2 separate regions of the Homo sapiens genome follow, and region 2 is linked to region 1. The links come from fine-mapping of genetic effects on gene expression. Tissue or cell type: sun-exposed skin. Region 1 holds a variant in brackets; the other region holds the start of a gene. All regions are shown on one strand. Distances are from middle to middle.

Evidence for each region. PIP is the estimated chance that this variant, and not a neighbour inherited with it, causes the effect.
Region 2: ARHGAP44 starts here. The variant in region 1 is fine-mapped to the expression of ARHGAP44 in sun-exposed skin (GTEx, PIP above 0.99).

Annotation. Positions count from the first base shown.
Region 1 is chr17:12,973,866-12,981,970 of GRCh38, forward strand. ARHGAP44 (Rho GTPase activating protein 44) reads left to right here. Exons shown (of 21, transcript NM_014859.6): 18 at 224-445; 19 at 6,193-6,368. Among named protein-coding and RNA genes, the nearest start is that of ELAC2, 40 kb to the right of the region's middle. RefSeq lists a silencer at 3,407-3,701. The variant C/CT (reference allele first, on the strand shown) is at 4,508.
Region 2 is chr17:12,785,897-12,794,001 of GRCh38, forward strand. ARHGAP44 (Rho GTPase activating protein 44) reads left to right here and starts at 3,602. Exons shown (of 21, transcript NM_014859.6): 1 at 3,602-3,995. The coding sequence starts at 3,943. ARHGAP44-AS1 (ARHGAP44 and MYOCD antisense RNA 1) reads right to left here and starts at 4,388. Exons shown (of 2, transcript NR_104607.1): 1 at 4,247-4,388. RefSeq lists a silencer at 3,529-3,878.

The DNA.
Region 1 (8,105 bases):
GGCCGCTCTTGCCAGGACTGGGCTGCCCAGGGCTGTGTCTTGGCCGCCGGGAGCAGCCAGGGTGCTGGGAGCACAGCCCCCAATGCATCGCTTCCCGGGCCCCCGGGGTGCTAAAGCTGCGCTGCTCTTCTCCCAACGCGGACCTGCTTGAATGTGGGGGAGGGAGCCTGTCTCCTGTCATCTGTTACGCGTGGGTAAGCGGTGTCTTTGTGTCCCTCGCCAGCATGGGTGTGAGGGTCATGGACACAAACTGGGTGGCTCGAAGAGGCTCCTCGGCCGGTCGGAAAGTGTCCTGCGCCCCGCCCTCCATGCAGCCTCCCGCCCCGCCCGCCGAGCTGGCTGCGCCCCTGCCTTCGCCGCTGCCGGAGCAGCCCCTGGACAGCCCCGCGGCCCCCGCGCTCTCTCCATCCGGCCTGGGCCTCCAGCCTGGGCCCGAGCGCACCAGGTAAGCGCGGGCCACTGCCGTCCGGGCGGGCTGGTGTGCGGTGCAGGGGGTGTCTGGGTTGGCCGCACTGGAGGCCTCTTGGATTTCGTCGTTTCCCATGCCCCCGCCCCCATTTCTAAGCATTCATATTTGGCTTCTGCGTCGCGCTGGCACCAAGTCAGTCATCCACAGCTGCCTGGATTATCACACGAAGTCCAGTCTTCCCCAGCATAACATCGCAAGCAAGCAGAAGGTGGCAGCTTGCGAAGGCAGGGTGAAGAGTCTTAGGTTCCCCAACTCTGTTTTCCCCTTCCTCTGTCTTTGTCGTTACAGTGGCCCCCCATATCCGTGGGAGATACATGCCAAGACCCCCAGCGCATATCTGAAACAGCTGATAGTCCCAAGCCCTATATATACTGTTATTTTTTCTTATACACACATACCTGTGATAAAGTTTTAATTTATAAATTAGGCACAGTAGGACATAAGCAATAACTGGTAATAAAATAGAAGAATTATAAGCATATGCTGTAATAAAATTATGTGAATGTGGTGTCTCTCAATTTTTTTTTTTTTTCGAGATGGAGTCTCGGTTGGTCGCCCAGGCTGGAGTGCAGAGGCGCGATCTCGACTCACTGCAACCTCCGCCTTACAGGCTCAAGCGATTCTCCTGCCTCAGCCTCCCAAGTAGCTGGGATTACAGGCATGTGCCACCATGCTTGGCTAATTTTTGTATTTTTAGTAGAGATGGGGTTTCACTATGCTGGCCAGGCTGGTCTCAAACTCCTGACTTTAAGTGATCCACCCGCCTCGGCCTCCCAAACTGCTGGGATTACAGGCCTGAGCCACCATGCCTAGCCTGAAAATATTTTATTGAACTGTACGCACCTATTTGGACCACAGTTGACCACAGGTAACTGAAACTACAGAAAGTAAAACCACGGATAAGGGGGACTACTGTATCCTATTTTGAAGTTTACAATTTCTGTGTTTCTCCTTCTCTTTATAGTCATAGCAGCCACTTTTTTTTTTCTTTTGATGCCGCTAAAATGGGTGCAAGTCAGGGAATGAATGGAGGTGGCGGTTGTACTGGGCCTGATGACCTTTGCAGCTTGCCACATGGTTGAATTGCCATTATTTTAGGGGAAGGAAAAAGACAGGAATTCATTCCATGGGTAGCTTGATGAATATTAACTGATAACTTTCTCTTTTTAAAGATAAAAAGATGGCCGGGCACGGTGGCTCACGCCTGTAATCCCAGCACTTTGGGAGGCCGAGGCGGGTGGATCACGAGGTCAGGAGATCGAGACCATCCTGGCTAACACGGTGAAACCCCACCTCTACTAAAAATACAAAAAATTAGCTGGGCGTGGTGGCGGGCGCCTGTAGTCCCAGCTACTGGGGAGGCTGAGGCAGGAGAATGGCGTGAACCCAGGAGGCGGAGCTTGCAGTGAGCCCGGATCGCGCCACTGCACTCCAGCCTGGGTGACAGCGTGACTCCGTCTCAAAAAAAAAAAAAAAAAAAAAAGAAAAAAAGACATGATTGCTGCCCTTAAAAAGTTCACGTTCCAGTGAGCAAACAGGCCCTGACAAATAATGACAGCACTTGGTTATGCATACCCAGGGTGGCAGGGGAGGAGACAGTACCTGGCCCTTCCTTGAAAGGGGCATGATCAGGGGAGGCAGATTCTGGATGTGAGAATTGCACCATGAAACAGCTTTGCTGTTTGTTTCTATCTTTTCTCAAACAGCAATTTAGAACACCAGAAAAGCAATATGAAATCACATGCCACCGTGTCTCCTGTTAGAAGACATGGCATTCCTCCATGACCACTGCCAGAAAAGTTTTGGAGACTTTGGGAAGCTGAATCTTCTAACCCAAATCTTTCTCCAAACACACATGCATACACATGGACACTCATCCTCACACACCATCACCACCAGCACACAAACACACACCCACACCCACACCAACCCCCTACATGAGAGGCTTCCAGGCTTTTTTGTTTTATTTTGTTTAATGAGTAAAAAGTATTTTCACGGCCGGGCACGGTGGCTCACACCTGTAATCCCAGCACTTTGGGAGGCTGAGGCGGGCGGATCACCTGAGGTCAGGAGCTCGTGACCAGCCTGGCCAACATGGTGAAACCCCATCTCTACTAAAAATACAAAAATTAGCTGGGTGCAGTGGTATATGTCTATAGTCCCAGCTACTCAGGAGGCTGAGGCAGGAGAATCGCTTGAACCCAGGAGGCGGAGGTTGCAGTGAGCCGAGATGGTGCCACTGCACTCCAACCTGGGTGACAGAGCGAGACTCTGTGTCAAAAAAAAAAAAAAAAAAAAGTATTTTCACTGTAAAACCAGGAAATGACAAAGGGACAGGGGGTTAGATAGTCTTAGAGCATAGGAGGGGGCACCTGACCCTGGGCATGCTGGGTTGCTGTTGATGACTTCAACTCAGAGGATGCTCGGTCCTGGCTGTGTAATTGCTAGGCCACAGATGGACCTGAGAGATGCAGATGCGGGCACAGTGAGTTCATTGGAGAAGCAGAGTCTGAGAGTGGTGGGCCAGGTGAGGCCGACCAGGAGGAAACGGACCCACAGGCGGGAGATGGGCTGGGACTGCTTCCTTTTTGGACACTCCTCAGCTTCATCCTAGTTTCCCATCTTAGAAAGGGGACTCAGTGCCATATGGTATTTGGCATATAAATGATATTTCTAAAAAGTGCTCCTTGAAGATGGATTCCCCCAGGCTCTGAAGGCATTCCAGGAACATTCTCGGTGGGTGACCTTGCAGAGTTACTTGTGGGCAGGCAATGGCACCCTCTGGTTTCGATTATTTTAAAGCCAACTCACATTGCTCTATAGCCAAATGTCTTTCCCCTTTGCCCGGGCTGACCGGTTTAGTAACTTTTCTTTGGATGTTAGTGTTTTGTGTTTTACACCACTTTTTGTTCTCTCCCCGCATGGGTTTCTCCCAGTACAAACAGGTGTTCCATTGTTTTTGTTTGTGTTGTTTGTTTCTGTTTCCTGGATGTTTGCAGCCCAGATGATGTTCCCTCGAGTGGCCGGATTCTCGTTCTGGCTCCCCCTCCCCTGATGGCAGGCCCTTCCTTGCCTCTGACTGGTTCCCACCTTCCCACTCCCTACCCCAGGCCCCACCTTCAGTTCTTTCCCTGGCTCTGTCCAGCCAGGCTCTGCCTCCACATCCCGCCCAACTGCTTAGCATGAATGCTAACCCCAAAATTCTCCTTCCTGCTTCTTGGCACCAAGGTCATGGGCTGAGTCATGCATCTTCAGAGCTAACTTGTCCTCAAACGTGCCTTAAACATGCCTTGTTCAGGTAGCGCCCCTAGTAGCCGCCCTACGCCCCACCTCTCCCCACTGGGTCAGCTGCACCTATGCTGGAGAAAGAGGACAAGGCTAAGTGGGTAAATACTTGTTTCTGTGCTGGAGGAAGTGTGTCCGGGCCGGGCGTGGTAGCTCACGCCTGCAATCCCAGCACTTTGGGTGGCCGAGGGGGGTGGATCCTGAGGTCAGGAGATCGAGGCCATCCTGGCCAACATGGTGAAACCCCGTCTGTACTATAAATACAAAAATTAGCTGGGTGTGGTGGCACATGCCTTTAATCCTAGCTACTTGGGAGGCTGAGGAAGGAGAATCGCTTGAACCTGGGAGGCAGAGATGACAGTGAGCTGAGATCATGGCACTATACTCCAGCTGGGCAACAGAGCAAGACTCCATCTCAAAAAAAAAAAAAAAAAAAAGTGTGTTTCGTGGCAGGGAACAGAAGGAAGAGCTCATTCCTAGATTCCTTGGATAGATGTGTGTCCAAAGGAAGGAAGAAGAGTCTACCCACCCACAAGAAGCAATTTTTTAGTTTGCTGATTATGAGATGTTTTTGATTGGTTGACTGGCCTTCCTCTTGATAGTGGCAGAGATAGATGGAAGGGTAGGTAGATATTTGGCATTGATGCCCGGGTACCTGGTAACCTGCAGCCTGAGGTCCTTGTCCAGCCTGAGTGAGGCAAGGGTTTTCTGTTTCTGTTTTTCATGAACAGAATAGAGAAAGGAATTACTGCT[C/CT]TTTTGGTTCCTCTGAATAAAATGGTTTTTGCCCCTTGGGGAACTAGGTATAGTGTGTAAGACTCATCCCAAGTGGGAGAGAATGTGCCTCCACATTGAATGTGATCTTCCTTTTATTTCTTTGCATGAGGAAAATGACCTGTGCTTTGACGCTATGGGCTTCCCCGGCCCAGCTCCCTGCTCCCAGTCTTTCTCACCTCAGTGGACGAGAGTGCTCTATTCCTATTGGAATTTTCTCCAAATTAACACCTGGAGTTTCTAGATCAGTTTAGGAAAGAAATAGGCTGTGCCTGCCTTTTTTTTTTCTTTTCTTTTTTCTTTTTTCTTTTTTTTTTTGACAGGGTCTCCCTCTGTTGCCCAGGCTGGAGTGCAGTGGCACGATCTCAGCTCACTGCAACCTCCATCTCCCGGGTTCAAGCCATCCTCCTGCCTCAGCCTCCCGAGTGGCTGGGATTACAGGCACATGTCACCACGCCCAGCTAATTTTTGCATTTTTAGTGTAGACAGGGTTTCGCCATGTTGGCCAGGCTGGTCTCAAACTCCTGACCTCAGGTGACCTGCCTGCCTCGGCCTCCCAAAGTGCTGGATTACAGGCATGAGCCACCATGCCCGGCCCAGGTTGTGCCTGCTCTTGTGGGATAGAAACAGCCATTGCAGAGGATTTGGGTTCCCAGACTCTTCATGCCCCACCTGTGGGCATCAGAATCCAGGTAGGTTCTAGCACGGATGACAGATGGCTCCCAACTGTGGGGCATCTCCCCTGATTCACTAAAGGCCACCTGGAGAATTTTCTTGGAAAGGATTGAGAACACTGTGGGGGAAGTGTGGAGATCAATTAGTAATATCTACCATCAGCGTATCAGGATGACAAATCCCTGGTTTGTGGTGTAGAGTGAGGTGTCTTCTAATACGTGCTTCATCCTCAGAAGAAGGCTGAGGAACAGCCTTGCAGTAACGATGAATCCTCTTTAGGAAACCTGGTGACCTAGGGTGCCTCATTGTCAATTCCAGAGGTCAGAGGCCAGAGCCCTCACTGCCATCGACCTTCACCTCTCTTGAAGCCTGGGACTGGGACTCAAACTGGCCCACATTTAAGGGCATGGCCTGGATTTCTGTCCACCCTAGCTTCTGCTGGAATGGGTATTGAGTTTGAGGATGAGTCCTAGAATCCCTCCTGCCTGGGGGGTGGCTGGAGGCTCAGGGCAAACAGCTGGAGAGCTGGGCCACAAGCTTGGCAGCAGGAGTCCGTGTCATCAGCACTCGTTGGGCACAGTGGCCCTGAGAAGTCCTCTTGGCTACAGTAGGAAAAGCACTTTGGTGTTCCAGTTTGAGAATGTTCTAGAATTCCTGGGTTGATGGCAGGATACGGTAGAGGTGCTCAGGCCCCTGCCCTCACATTGCTCACGGTCTCCTTGAAGAGAGGAGGGCAGAGGCATGAAAAGGGCATTGGCAGTGAGTGCCAAGTGCCACAGAGATGGGGGCAGAACCCAGGCCATCAGAGCTCCAGGAAGGGCAGTCACCCCAAGGGGCACCTGCGAAGGTTTTAGGAAGGGGCCAAGACAGACCAGAGCTGGGACAGACTTGCACGGGGCCCAGAAGGACACACAGGGTGGCCATCGGCAAGGCTGGTGCTGCCGCTCACTGAGTTCAGGGCTTTTCTTTTGTCTCATGTGCTTTCGTTTCAGCACAACAAAAAGCAAGGAACTTTCTCCAGGCTCTGCACAGAAAGGAAGTCCAGGCTCCAGCCAGGGCACAGCCTGTGCAGGGACTCAACCAGGGGCTCAACCTGGAGCTCAGCCGGGCGCCAGCCCCAGCCCCAGCCAGCCGCCTGCAGACCAGAGTCCTCACACCCTCCGGAAAGGTATGGCCCTGCTTCCCTTCTCCTTGGTCTCAGGCCGGAGGTGGCTGTGACATTCCCTGAAGGCTCGTTTTCCTCTATGAACTTGGATATTGAGAAACTGTGTGGTTTAGTGACTAATTCCCATCTGGACATTAGAGCTTTGGAAGTTAAAAGGGATCCTTTCTCTATTATTCCTCAGTTTACTTATTTGACAGGTGGGCTCATTAGGGGCGTATAGAGGCCAGTGCTTCCCATACACCAAATGATGCCACCAGGGCAAAATTCATTGTCCACAATGATGTGTGTTTTCCAGAGACCTGCCGGGCCCTACCTCTGTCATTTGAAAAGCTGTATAGGGTCATCTACAGGAGTCTCCTTCCCCGCAGGGCAGCCTGGCACAGCTGCCTACCCCTAGATCACTCGTACAGGGTGACAGGAGGGAGTCAGGATAGCTTCTGTAGTACCTGAGTCTCAGCTCTGAATGGCCCAAGAATGGCCACACTGACCAGTTATTATCTCTTCAGATAATCACTTCCAAAAGCTAAAGGTATGCTCCATGTGACATTTCATAAATGGGGAGCTGTACTGAGCGTACTTATCTGAACCTTTTTGGTTTGTTCTTACCTGTGTCATCTCTTTGCAGAGTCTTTCACTCGTCTAAAATAATACATCATCCTGTGTGTTCTAATTTCAGACCACTCGCACTTCTAGGAGCGGCTTTTAACTCCTGGATTTGTCGAATAGGGCCCGGATTTAGCTCATCCACATGTGCCTTCATGACAGGCCCTTTTCCAGCCCCCTTAGTTCCGATCTGCAGTGGCAGTTTCATTCTCTTTGTCTGCCCTCACCAAGCCCGTGGATCTTATTCGATCCCTACTCATTCCTTTTGCATTCTACACAAATTTATTAAATCCTGCTATGTACAGAGCTCTGTGCTTTCCAGAGAGGAAGGCAATGATAAGGCAAAGGTGTTGGCACTGTGCTGGGAGACACTCAGGGTACTGTAAGGACACCTGGGAGCATGCTTTCTCGACTCAGGAGTTAGGACAGGTGGCCCAGCGGAAACGACATCGTGAAGGTTGAATAGGAGTTGGGCCAAAGTGCCGGCGTGAGATTTCAGCATCTCAGAGCATTTCTCCAGCACCAATGGTTTCTCCTTGGTCTAGATGCCATATTCTTGGTTATGTCTTTTTTTTTTTTTTGAGACGAAGTCTTGCTCTTGTGCCCCAGGCTGGAGTGCAATGGCACAATCTCGGCTCACTGCAACCTCCGCCTCCTGGGTTCAAGCGATTCTCCTGCCTCAGCCTCCCAAGTAGCTGAAATTAAAGGCGTCTACCACCACACCTGGCTAATTTTTGTATTTTCAGTAGAGATGGGGTTTCACCATGTTGGCCAGACTGGTCTCGAACTCCTGACCTCAGGTGATCTGCCCACCTCGGCCTCCCAAAGTGCTGGGATTACAGGCGTGAGCCACTGTACCCGGCCAGGCACCTCTTTGTTTTAGAGTCCTTTAACTGGCCGGACGCAGTGGCCCCTGCCTGTAATCCTAGCACTTTGGGAGGCTGAGATGGGCAGATTGCCTGAGCTCAGGAGTTTGAGACCAGACTGGACAACGTGGTGAAACCCGTCTCTACTAAAATATAAAAAAATCAGCTGGGCGTGGTGGTGGGCGTCTGTAATCCCAGCTACTCAGGAGGCTGAGGCACAAGAATTGCTTGAACCTGGGAGGTGGAGGTTGCACTGAGCCAAGATCGTGCC
Region 2 (8,105 bases), 190 kb before region 1:
GATATGATATATCTGTCTTCAGTCTGCCTGCCCCCAACCTAATTGTTGACCATGGGTAAAAGCAAGGTGCATGCTACTTTCTCAGAGAAACCCACTGTAGCAGTCAGCTTAGACTCAATTATGTTACAGCAACAAACCTCTGATTTAAAACAGCAAAGATACCTTTTGCTGGGGGGCCACATCACTGTTCCACAGCATCCCCTAACTGGTTCATTGGCAGCGTTAAGAAGAAGAGGGCAGGATCACAAAATGACTCCTGAAACTTCTGCCCTCAGAAGAAGCGTAAAAGTCACCTCTGTGCATATTCATTGTTCAAAGAAAATCACATGACCGATCTTTACCTCAACAGTAAGGTAAAATAGAGTCCTTCCCATAGGGATTGGCAGTGAAATTTTTTGGGCATTAATAGTATCTGCACAAGCATCATCTACTTTTCTTCTCTCTTTCTCTCCCGCTTTCCAGTCCCCATCACCATCTTCAACATCTCACAGCCTGTAGGTTCTTTATTTAGACTAAGCAGGATGATATATGCTTTATAATCTACTATTTCTGACATAGACTATTAAAGCTCCAAAGCCTGTATTCTGGAAACTCAAAACTCTTTTCTTGAAGAACTCTATTCTGTCACATGTGTTTCTGAAGCTCTTGTTTCTGCACTATTATCCCTTCCCCGGGGTAGAAAGCAGAAAATGTACTAGCTGCTTCCTGAGTGAAGGAAGCATTCAAAGGAAGACAGAAAATCTGTGGAGAAGCCACCAGTTAATAAAACATTATTGGACCACACTCTGGCAGGGGAGGCTGCCAAAGGGATTTCCCTTTGGAACGGAAAAATCTTGGGATTGAAGGCAGGGGCTGGCATGATATTGGAGTTGGCTACCAGAGTTCTTGAGGATTAGTGCTAACAAGTAGAACTTTCTGAGAGGATAGTAATGTTCTTTATCTGTGCTGTCCAGTACAGTAGCCTTTAGCCACATGTGGCTCTTAAGTACTTCGAATGTGACTTGGGTGACCGAGGAACTAAATTCTGTTTTTATTTTATTTTATTTTTTATTAAACTTTAAGTTCTGGGATATGTGTGCAGAACGTGCAGGTTTGTTACATAGGTATACACGTGCCATGGTGGTTTGCTGCACCCATTAACCCATCATCTATATTAGGTATTTCTCCTAATGCTATCCCTCCCCTTGCCCCTACCCGCGACAGGCCCCGGTGTGTGATGTTCCCCTCCCTGTGTCCATGTTTTCTCTTTGTTCAACCCCCACTTATGAGTGAGAACATGCGGTGTTTGGTTTTCTGTTCCTGTGTTAGTTTGCTGAGAATGATGGTTTACAGCTTCATCCATGTCCCTGCAAAGGACATGAACTCATCCTTTTTAATGGCTGTATCCATGTCCCTGCAAAGGACATGAACTCACCCTTTTTTATGGCTGCATGGTATTCCATGGTGAAAATGTGCCACATTTTTTTTTATCCAGTCTATCATTGATGGGCATTAGGATTGTTTCCAAGTCTTTGCTATTGTGAACAGTGCCACAATAAACATACATGTGCATGTGTCTTTATAGCAGAATGATTTATAATCCTTTGGGTATATACCCAGTAATGGGATTGCTGGGTCAAATGGTATTTCTAGTTCTAGATCCTTGAAGAATTGCCACACTGTTTTCCACAATGGTTGAAGTAATTTACAATCCCACCAACAGTGCAAAAGTGAGGAACCAAATTTTGAACTTTAATTAACTTAAATTGCAACAACCACATGTGGCTAGGGGATACTATATTCAACAGTGCAGTTCTGGAAGTTACCAGAGATAGTGTTGCTAAAAGTCATACAGTGACCTTAATGTCTTACCGTTTATACACATAAAAAGCATGTTGTACTTTGCTTTTTAAAAAATCTCAAAATGGAAATAATTTCACTTAATATAGACATCATATTGACATTATAGGTACAGCATAGTTGGTTAAAAGCAAATAATGCCTTCATTTATTCACTGGCTGGAGTTGTCTGACCTAATAAGCAGAGGCTAAATTCACAATTAATTAAAGATTTCATGTTCATTCAGCCAAGACATGCCTCAAACCACTTTTTGTTCAGCTAGCCAGCAAGATACTTAGAGCCATATTTAGGACATCTTGCAACTATAATCAACATATGCAAAATATCCTATTTCAAAGAAGATCCTTCCTTTATAAGATTAGTAATTCTGTTGTATGAACAGGATTTTTCTCTATTATGCTAAATATAATCATTTTGTAGTAAATGAATACGGCAATGTACTATATGAAAATTTATATGTAATTTGATTATTGTAATTTAACAAATAGTTCTCTTACTGAAGATCAGGCAGCATATTTTTCTATTTAGGGATGAGGAAACAGAGGTTTGGAGAGGTTAAGCTGTTTTCCTAAGGTTATATAACAGGTATGTGGAATTCTGATGCAGGAACTCCTATCTGTTTAATCCAAAGTGCCTCACACCCAACAATACTGCTTTTACTTGATATATAATGATAAAACCTTGATATATAATGATAAAACCTAACTGCAATCACCAATCTTTTTCTTTTTTTTCTTTTCTTTTTTTTTTGTTTTTTGAGATGGAGTCTAGCTCTGTCACCCAGGCTGGCGTGCAATGGCGCGATCTCCACTCACTGCAACCTCCACCTCCCAGGTTCAAGCTATTCTCCTGCCTCAGCCTCCCAAGTAGCTGGGATTACAGGTGCCCGCCACCACGCCCAGCTAATTTTTGTATTTTTAGCAGAGACAGGGTTTCACTGTGTTGGCCAGGCTGGTGTCGAACTCCTGACCTCGTGATCCACCCTCCTTGGCCTCCCAAACTGTTGGGATTACAAGCGTGAGCCACCGCGCCCGGCTCACCTATCTTTTTCTAAGGATAGAGACCAAAGAAGCCACAACCCCTTCCAAGGAGTCAACTGACGCCAATGGGATGCTGTGGTGCAGGACACTTGGGGGGTGCTGCAGCTGATGCCCCTTGGTCTCCTGGTGGTGGAAGGGAAATGGGACTAGATACGAGATTGGCATCTAAGCCATACAAAAAAGCTGTCTCAGACAGGTTGGGCCAGTAAGCACAACGTCACTTATCTATATTGGCTTCTGGTTACCTAATGGGTTTGGTTTGGTAAAAATTAAGAATCAGACTTCTGGGATGCAAGCTATGCCTGTTCAAAATCTGCTGTCAGCCCCTGTGTTTCAAGCTTAACCTTGAACCTCATCATTAATCAGGTGACCTTAGACCGTTTTATCAGCCACGTATCTGCTAGCATAAATCTCCCTTCTGTGAATTCAGAACACTGATACCTCACATTCACTAAAAATACAATGAGAGACAGATGCTCACTTTCTTTATTTGCTGTTGTATTCTTGGTCCCACTTTGCCATTTTTAAAACAGGAAAACGTTTCCCTTACTCGAACGCTAAAGTGCAAAGCTGCTGGTGACGCTGCCTTCTCCCACCTCCGCACTCCACTGTCCTTGCAAACTTTGGACAGAGGAAAGGTGGGCACGGGGCGCGAAACTACAAGTCCCGGCATGCACGGCGTTCTCCGCACAGGCGCACGGGGACCGCCGGGCCAGCCGGCCAGCCAGCCTGCGGAGACTCCCGGGTCCCCGCGCCGGACTGGGACTGGGAGCAGGCAGCCCGGGCGGAGCGGGCCGGTGCCGAGGACGGCCCCAGGCATTGCTCTGCCCCGGGCATTGCGCGGCGCGCGTGAGGGGGATGCGGCAGGAGGCGGCGCGGCGGGAGGAGTAGGCGGCGGCGCCCTCGGGAGGGAGCTGCGCGCGGGCCAGACGGCGCCCGGAGGCTCCGCAGTGCCGCCGCCGTCGCCCGGGAGGCTCCGCGCGGGAGCCATGTAACCCTGCGGCGGGCTCCGGGCTGCTCCGTCCTTCCCCAGCTCCCGGGCTAGCGCGGCAGCGGGGCCACGATGAAGAAGCAGTTCAATCGCATGCGCCAGCTGGCCAACCAGACGGTGGGCAGGTAGGTCACCCGCGGGCACCGCTGTCGGTGCGCGCCCGCGAGGCTGCATCCGCAGGGGCGCGCAGGTGATGGAGCCCGCCCAGCCTCCAGTCCTCCTTGCCTCAGTCCTTTCCCCTGCACCAGCTCCCTCCAGGCGCCGCTCGCAGGCGCGACCCCTCCTCCCTAACTTCCCAGACCCCGGAGCTCTTCTCACTCGCCGCCTTCTGCTCCGGGCTCCGGTTGCCAAGCGCAAAGTGTGACGCATCCTTTACCTGCGTCCCCGGCTGCCCCTTCGCTTCGTCCTCCCTGCCTTTCCCCGGGACTCCCTTCTCCCTCTGGCCGCCTGTCTTCCTGGAAACAGGTGTTTGCTCTGATTGTGCTGGAGGCAGCCGAACCGCAGTCGGTCTCCGGAGATCTCTTCCCTCCCCTCCCCTGCGCCGAGTTCAGGGCTGCTCCCGGGTCCAGGGAAAGTGCTGGGCCTGGTCGGCCTGCCCCTCCCGCCGTGTTTGTTTTCAGGGACTATGACTGTACGAGATTCTGGATCACTTTCCTGGCCGGGTTTCTTAAGGCGTTTGGTGGGGGGAAAGGGTGAGGGGTGGGAGAGGAAGGAAGGTGCTGGTGGAATGGCGTTGCTGCCTGCTTGATGTTAGGACTGATTTCAGTGGAGGGAGGGAGGCTGCAAAAAGGAGGCCCAAGTCCTCGGGAAGATGAGATAAGCAGAGAATCGCAGCCAGGTAGGGGAGGGGGACAGAGGCCCCACAGTCAGAAGAGTCAGGCCCCGGGAAGCTGCAAGACCCCGCCTGCTGCCATCACGGTGAAAATGGGCTACATCTGGACTCCAGGAGCGGCTCTGCAGGGTGCCAACATCTATTAAGGTTACATAAAAATCCTGGTGGGTCGCTCCCAAGACTAGACATTCTTTGAACACAGGAGCGTTAGGTAGAAGGGATTTTTCCTGGAACCCCTACTCCTGGGGAGGGATTTCCGTTGCTGCTGTGGCAAAGGAATTCAGGTGTGCTGTTCTAAAGCAATCAGAAAGCAAAGAATCCAGCCTTGGGTGCAGTTCAAATGCAAGCTCAACACCTCGAGGGCTCTCCACTAGGTTTACGGAGAAACCGAATACCTTTCTTGGGTGGGAAGTGGAGCCTGAACTGGCATCTGGTAGGATGGGGGTGGGGACATCCCTGGGGAATAGGGGACATCTGAACTCCCGTCTGAGCATACTGCCCTAGTTACAGTGGGCATTTGAGGGCAGGGGATGCGGTGGCTTCTTATGCTTCCAGGGACTCCAGATGGTTTCCAAGTAACAATGTCTAAAATTGACTTGGATTCATTTTTCCTTCCCAAACACATGTGCTTTAACATGAGGGGGAATTTATGAATAGCAGAGTCAGATTAGCCCAGATTTCTGGCATGGTATTGCCACAGATATAGCCTCACGTGGACTGCCTTTTGATGTGTTGGATGCCGAGATAGTGTTTCCTGGTATTCGTTGTTTAGCAGATGACAGTCAAGCCGACCCGTCTTTAATGTCTTGGCTTCTTCGTCACCCTGCAGGCGGGCATTGGCCATCACCTCAGACCAGCCAAGTGACCAGGAGGCCCCTGACACTAGACTTGGGTTGCTGGTTTCTCTTGGTCTTGGGGTTTCAGTGCCGTGCTAGAATCTAAATGTTCAGAACATGTTTATGCCTCCTCCCTGGCCTTCCTGAAACACAATTCTTCTTTTTTTCAGGACCTGTTTTTAAATGGGGGAGATTTTTGCGCCATGGCATCATATCTTATTTTTCAGCCTCATCCATGGGGGGAATGCAAAATGGTGAGGGGAGGTTGGATTTCAGAAAAAGTGGTCTTAGGTATTGAGAGCACGTTCTTGGAAGTCCAAGCAGCTGGTTACCAAGAGGTTCTTTCCTCTTCTTTGTTGGGGCTCTGGTGGATGTTGGCCTATGGATGAATTCTGCCTTTCTCCGTTGGTAGCCATTGTGTTGTGCACTGGGCCAGGTGAGGGCCAGCCTGTATCGCTTTTGATGAAATCCAGAGCAAGCCTTTTAAAGCAAAAACCAGTTCATGTTACCTTGCTGCTGAAAAGCTTCCAGCGACATCTGATTGTGCTTAGCATCTCATATCTTGCCAGGGTTCTACAGGACCATCCTTGGTTGGCCTTTTTTCTTAACTCTTTTTCTCCCCATTCTCATCTCTTCACATTCATGGAGCTCTAGCCGTGTGGCCTTTCTTGCCCCAAACACACTGAGCTCATATCCACCTTGAGGATTTCGTTTTTACTGTTTTCCCATTTTTTTTGTTTTTTGCTTGGCTGAGAATGTGCTCCTTCCAAGTAGCTTTTTCTCATCATTTCAGTCTTGGTTCCAAGGCCTTCAAGAGGCCCTTCCTCCCCTATTTACCTCCAGCTCATCATTTTTTCATTTCTGGACAGCACTCATCACTGATTGAAACGCTTTTATTTTTTATTTTCTTGTCTGTCTGCTTCCAGCAGAATCTATTGATTGCTGTTGTATGCCTGTGTAGATAGTGCAATGCCGTTTAGACTACTGACTCTCAATCGGTGTTGATTGCCGAGATTAAAACGGTTTACCCCAGGGTCCGTGAGGGTCAGCGAGAGGGGCAGTATCTCCTCTATTATTGAGAATGTTTTGGGTCATGATCCTATGAGTATTGGAGTAAAAGAGCCCGCGGTTGCCTGTTAATTTCTTAAATCAGTAGAAGCACATAGGATTGGAATTTGGACTTTAGGTGTGCAGTTATAAAGCACTTGATTTTTATCCTTATATTTTTCTAAAGTTTTCCTCTTTCCGAGGGAGGACTAAGAGGACTTGAAAGTCCTTCCTCATGGCTCGCCTTCCCTAAGTTGCAGGTTCTGGAGTTCTGAATATAAAACTTAAAGTCATTTTAACAATGTAGGAGTTGCCCTACTTAAACATACTCTGCTGGGTTACTAGTACTTTCTCTCGAAGTGCTCACATCCAAGTCATATTAAGGGCGTCAGCGACTATGAAAAGATTTGATAAAACCCATTGTATTTAACTGACAAAAGTTTCAGCCCCTCCTTGGTCTGTTTCCTTAGTCTGCACGTGTTCCTTCTGCTTTGAACTTTCCCCTTTCTGTCCCTTCACTTCAATCCGTCCTTTGGGAAGCACTCCCTGGCCACTGTGTGCCTCATGGTTAGGAGCACAGGCTTTCCACTGGGACAGGTTTAGTTTGTTGCTGACTATGGAATCCAGAGCTTAATTCTCTGCACATTAATTTTCTTACTTGCAAAATGGGAGTAGTTAAGGATTGCACTGTGGTAATGTGGTAACCACAGTGATAACATAGATAACCTGTGAAAAGTACCTAGCAGTGCTCAGCACTAGGAAATGCTTAATAAATGGTAGCTACAAGTATCTCTGGGCAAATGTTATGACTGTTATTGAATTATATGCACTATGGCATATGTACCTTTATTAGATGTCTACTGTGTCCCAGACACTGCTCTGGTTCAGGGAGTATTGCAGTACAGGGCAAACAAAATTCCTGTTTGCCTGGAACCTGCATTCTAGGCCGGGCGTGGTGGCTCACGCCTGTAGTCCCAGCACTTTGGGAGGCCAAGGAGGGTGGATCACCTGAGGTCAGGAGTTCGAGACCAGCCTGGCCAACATGGCGAAACCCCGTCTCTACTAAAAATACAAAAATTAGCTGGGCATGGTGGCGGGCGCCTGTAATCCCAGCTACTGGGGAGTCTGAGGCGGGAGAATCGCTTGAACCCGGGAGGTGGAGGTTGCAGTGAGCCAAGCTTGCACCACTGTACTCCAGCCTGGGCGACAGAGTGAGACTCCATCTCACACAAAAAAAAAAAAAGGAACCTGCATTCTAAAAGCATGCTATGGTAATAATGGCTCACTTGTGTTATAATTTTTATCTTTTGTCATTTACTTTCCCCACTAGACTTTAAACTCTTTGGAGGCAGGGACAGCTGCCCTAACGCTGCCCTGTATAGAAGGTCCTCTGTCATTCTTTGGCAATGGAATGAGTAAGTGAACAAAAGATCCATGCGCTATAGATAGGGGAGTCTTTTGAAGTAGTTCAAAGATGGGGAAAGCTCCTGATACCATGTTTCTTTAACGTTGTGATGGTG